Linked DNA regions of Homo sapiens: region 2 is linked to region 1. Evidence: fine-mapped expression QTL. Tissue or cell type: hippocampus. Region 1 holds a variant in brackets; the other region holds the start of a gene. All regions are shown on one strand. Distances are from middle to middle.

What was found. PIP is the estimated chance that this variant, and not a neighbour inherited with it, causes the effect.
Region 2: ADAMTS9 starts here. The variant in region 1 is fine-mapped to the expression of ADAMTS9 in hippocampus (GTEx, PIP 0.99).

Annotation. Positions count from the first base shown.
Region 1 is chr3:64,412,851-64,415,534 of GRCh38, forward strand. No RefSeq gene overlaps it. Among named protein-coding and RNA genes, the nearest start is that of PRICKLE2-DT, 31 kb to the right of the region's middle. The variant G/A (reference allele first, on the strand shown) is at 1,688.
Region 2 is chr3:64,686,738-64,689,421 of GRCh38, forward strand. ADAMTS9 (ADAM metallopeptidase with thrombospondin type 1 motif 9) reads right to left here and starts at 1,263. Exons shown (of 40, transcript NM_182920.2): 1 at 806-1,263; 2 at 1-231. The coding sequence starts at 920. The region is part of intron 1 of ADAMTS9-AS2 (ADAMTS9 antisense RNA 2); the gene reads left to right.

The DNA of each region.
Region 1 (2,684 bases):
TATCGACGATGGGAGCACCATGTAGTGAAGCTGGTAATGTTTCTTGGTCCAGGCCCTGAGTGTTCGACCTGGGGAAAAATTTTCTTTTTGTATACTTATGATTTGTGTACTTTTACCTATGCATGTTGTATTTCAATACAAAATTTGTTAAAAGGATGTCCATGCTTGCACATCCCTTGGAAGAGTCTTCACTATATGTCATTGGGTCTCATACCCTAATCATATATTAATACTATGCCTTAAGGTACCACCTGCCCCCAATCTCAGCCCCTGCCTCTTCCAGCCTCCCATTCCTTCAGGTCCTTTCTTAGAGCTTGTCCTTAGGCTCCAACTTACGTCTCTCTCTTCCCATGACCCTTTATCTTGGCACCTCACCCCAGTTACAGAACCTGTGTTTCTCAACTTCTGCCCCTACCCTCTCTAATCTTTCATCCAGCTTGTCTTTCCCCAGCCTCAAACCCCGGATGTCCATGTACAGTCAGATGCCCCGGGTCCTGCCAGCCCTCCTTGTTCCCACCACCTCTTTCACCACAGGCACTATGCCCAGGCCCAGCTTTTCTACCTGGCTCAGGAATTCCCACTTCCTGCCCTTGGAGTTCAACCCTTTCTGCCTGAAACCATGGTCTTGCCTACTCTTAAACTTGTCTTTTTTTCCCTCTTACTATCCACTAGTTTCCTTTCTAAATTAAGCTCATCTTGATTTTTAAGGGCTAGTTTTAAAGAAAATGCTAAGTCAACAATCACTAATTTTGATAGCCAATGCTTGCTGAATGCTTATTACGTGTCACACACTGCTCTCAACACGGTTCGTGTATTGACTCACTCAGTCCTCCTAGCAACCCCCTAAGGAAGGTACTATTCCAATCCCTGCTTTGTAGATAAGGAAAGTGACACTGAGGCCTGGAGAGGTGAAACAACTTGCCCAAAAACACACAGGGGCTCAGGAGTAGATTTGGGCTAGAAACCTATGCAGTCTGAGCTCCGAGCCAGAGCTCCTAACAGAAGCACAACACAGAAGCTCCTCTCTGCAATAGGAAAGGTCCTTAGACATGGCCAGAGGCAAGGAGGGGGCCATGAGTGACTGGGCTTGGGAAGAAATGTTCTAAGCAATACAGTCTGGGAGGAAAAGATGGAGATGCCAGGCCTGGCCCCTTTCCAAATGGCACATAGTAGTTTTCTCTTGATGAGGAAGGTGTTCGCGGAGGGTTCTGGTGATGTCCTGGTTTTGCCTTCTCCCCTCTTTGAACACTGATTAGGAGGAGGATTGGCAAGAAAATGTTCACTATGCAGTGAAGAGAAGAGGAAGGGAATCCTTAGGGCATGCGTGTGTGTATTATGTGGTTGTTAGTAAACAGGAAGAATGGGTTGGTTATTGGAAAAGGTGGAAACACACGAATGTCCTTTGAGAAGCTCTGACTCACCTCTGGACATTCTCATTTTGACTGTACGAAAAGATTCAAAGAAATAGACGCTTCACAGAACACATGAGTAAGGAGGACAAATCTCCGACCAGAAAAATGCTTTTCTTTGTAAAAAGCAAAGTTTGATTTAAAAATAAAGACTACTCAGTAGTGTGGTTGAGAGAAGCCAAAACCTGCCTGTAATCCCAGCACTTTGGGAGGTCAAGGTGGGCAGATCACTTCAGCTCAGGAGTTCAAGACCAGTTTAGACAACATGGTGAAACCCC[G/A]TCTCCACTAAAAATACACAAATTAGCTGGGCATTGTAGTATGGAAGGCTGAGGTAGGAGGATGGATTGAGCCCGGAAGGTCAAGGCTGCAGTGAGCTGAGATAGCACCATTGCACTCCAGCCTGGGTGATAGAGTGAGACCCTGTCTCAAAAAAATAAAAATAATTTTTAAAAAAATCATGGAAAGCCAAGCGTGAAAAACAAATAATAACAAAAATAAAAAACATATATAAAAGAAAAGCCAAAACTATCCCAAAACCATCAGCTGTGTTCACAGACTTCTAAGGAGAGGCAACAAGAAAAATACCTGAGGCCACATCCTCCCACTCCCCACTCCCACCCCTGAACTCCTGTCAGCGTTCTTCATCTTTTCTGAACCTTAGATGCCTTTGGGCACCTGGTAAAGCCTGGAACACCTTCTCAAAGTAAAATGAGTGATTAAGATATATCAGATTATAGGGAAAATCAATTACATTAAAATATGTTTATTCAATTTTTTAAAAAATTTGATGTAGCAGAAGTCCTGGCTGGAGCAATCAGGGAAGAGAAAGAAATAAAAGGCATCCAAATGGGAAAAGAAGTCAAACTATCTGTCTTCACTGATGATGATTCTAAAATCCTAAAGACTCCATCAAAAGGCTCCTGGAACTGATAAATGATTTCAGTAAAGTTTCAGGATACAAAATCAAGGTACAAAAATCAGTAGCATTTCTACACAAATAACGTTCAAGCTGAGAGCCCAATCAAGAATACAATCCCGAACTCCCAGCCTGGCCAGCATGGTGAAACCCCATCTATACTAAAAATACAAAAAAAAAAAAAAAAAAAAAAAATTAGCCAGGCATGGTGGTGGGCACCTGTAATCCCAGCTACGTGGGAGGCTGAGGCAGGAGAATCACTTGAACCCAGGAGGCGGAGGTTGCAGTGAGCCGAGACTGTGCCATTGCACTCCAGCTTGGGCAACAAGAACAAAACTCTGTCTCAAAAACAAAAAAAA
Region 2 (2,684 bases), 270 kb after region 1:
TGGCGGTGAGATTAAATAGAAACTGCTGGCCGAAGGCAGAGAGGCGGTAATGCGCCTGGGAGGAGGTAGAGGAGGAAGAGGAGGAGGCGAAGGCAGGCCAGGGGTCAGTGGCAGAGTTAATGCTCCGTCGCGTTCTTTTGAAGTGGACGTTCGTGGGAAAGGGTTCTCCGAGAGCGTTCACTCGGATGGGAGACACGATTTCGTATTCGCTCAGGGTCTCTAATAATTTCACTGCGGAGAGAAGCAGAGGTATATGAACCAATAATTCATTTTTCCTTAAGCTTTAATTTAAAACGAAGGTGGGGACTTTGTTCTGACCTTATTTTCCAGCCCATTCGAGTCAATCCCTTCACCCTTAATCAGTGGACAAATATTTGCTGAGCACCTACTATGTGCCAGTAACAGGACCTGTGCTAGGTGCTGAGGATACACTATTCCGAGCCAGACAATTAACAAGTCAAAATATATATGATTTCAGATATTGATAAATAACCTGAATAAAATAAAACATGACGCTATCTGGTGCCCCCAATTACTAAGTTACTTTAGTTTGCGGCGTGGGAGTGGGGATGGGGATATATCTGGCAACAGCAAGGTAGGGGGGGGTTGCCTAAATTCGTTTCCATAGTGTCCCTCCCTAGCAATTGGTTGGGGATGACCCAAAGAAGGGAGAGGCTGCAAAGCGGGAGATAATTCTTTCTAGGAAAAGGAGAGAAGCCTCCGCTGCGGGGTGCCCCTGCCCAGGAGCGAGGACCGGGAGGCGGCGTCGGGGCCGGCGGGGTCCCGGGGGCCGGAGCCTGGTTACCTTGCCTCGGGTGCAGCCTGTCCTTGCGCACGGCCGCCGCGGCGTCTGGGCTCCCCATCTCGGCCAGGTCCCGCACCAGGAGCGTTAGCAGTGTGGCCCAGGATACAAACTGCATGGTGCTTCCCACCCCTCCCTCCGCTGCCCCCACCCCCCTCCCTCCTGCCCTCCTTGGCTGCGGCGGCGACGCGAGGCAGCGGCCGTGGAGAGCGCGCGGAGCCCGGCGCCCGCCGCCAACTTTTGACTTTAGGAGTCGCTGAGGTCTCGCTGCGAGGGTCCCGTCTGCGCTCGGCTGAGCAACGCCGCCGCCTGCCGAGAGCTGAGCCGCTCGGGCCGCAGGAGGAGCCGGAGGAGCAGGAGGAGGAGGAGGACTGGGGCTCGGCTGCTTGGCCGCATAATGCCCAGCGAGCGGGCAGGAGAAGGCGAGGAACTTGCGCTCCGAGGCGCGCCGGGCGCCCTGTGCTGGCCGGGATAGCTGAGCGGCTTCTTGAATGGGGGGCTGGGGGGGCGGAGGCGGGGGGGCCGCGGGTCCACAGCCTCTCAAATGCCCCCGGTGCACGCCTCTAAGAGGAGGAGAGGGGAGGAGAAAGCGAGACGAACGGGGACCGCCTCCTTCCAGACCATGTCCCCTCCTCGGCCGGCCCGTGCGGGACTCGCAGCCGGAGGCCCTGCCGGCTGCAAGAGGCGGAGGCCAGAGGCGTCACCAGCGCCGGGGCAGCTGTTCCTGGTCCCCGCCACCTCGCTGAAGTGGGGTTTTCTGAGATTCCCTGCCCCGGGGAGGGAAAGCAGGGAAAGTTCTCTCCCTTTCCTGGCGCGCGTGCAGCCACTTCCCCTCTCGTCTTTTTCCTCTCCTCTCCTCTCTCTCCTCCCTTCCGAGTCTCTTTTTCCTCCTCCCCCTTGTCTCTCTGCTGCTGTGCCTCTCGGACTCTGTCCCTTCTCCCCATTTTCCCCTGTGATGTCTGTCTTCTCCCCGCCCCACCGTGTCCCTGTCTGTTTCTCACATTTCTCCTTTTCCTTTCCTTTCTCTTCCGTCCCCATCTCTTGCCACCAGTCCCCATCTTTTGGTTTCTTACAAGTGAAAGTGGCCCAGCGCCGGAGCGCCTTCCCTTCCTACACTTTTTCATTCGGGAAGAGATTTGGCACCTGAGCTCCGCTCTCGATTTAATCACCCCAAGTCAAGAGTTTTAGAAATGGGGTTCTTAATCCTGCAGGTCGGAGTGTGTTTCTAATACGTGGTCTCTTGAAAATTTCGCAAAATATTTAAGCTGTGCTTTCCACCAACCTCTGTCACCATTCATGGAGGGTCCATAGCATTCTGTAGGTCCCCTGCCCCAAAAAAGGTTAAGAACAAATTTTGGCAGCAAGAAGGGGCGGGGACTCTGGCGCCCCTCACTACCAGGGGGTTTAGAGATGGGAGGGGAAGGGGGGATGGAGTGTAAAGTTGTAGATCCCTGTGGGAGGCACCAGTCCCTGGAGGGATTTCTCAATCACTTCCGCTTGCTTTCAGCCTGAGAGATGCTTGGAAAGACTGGGAAAGACTGAAAGCAGGCGCTTCAAGCTACACCTTCGTGTGTGTGTGTGTGTGTGTGTGTGTGTGTGTGTGTGTGAATTGTTCAATCTTGGGTGGTTCAGTGGCGCCTTTTCTTTAACCAGCCCTCAGGAAGATAGAATTTCAAGATAATTTCAAGAGGAAAGACATGACAATATCGTTAAAAATATATAAATATATGACTAATAAATATATATTTGCCCAAGTATCCTAGAACGGGGGTTGAGGTTCTGTTGCGTGGTAGGTTAGCACTCAGGACTAGAAATACCAAAGATTGCCAACACCAGGAACCAAATCGCAATATGCTAGCAATGTCAACTATTCTTGAGATAC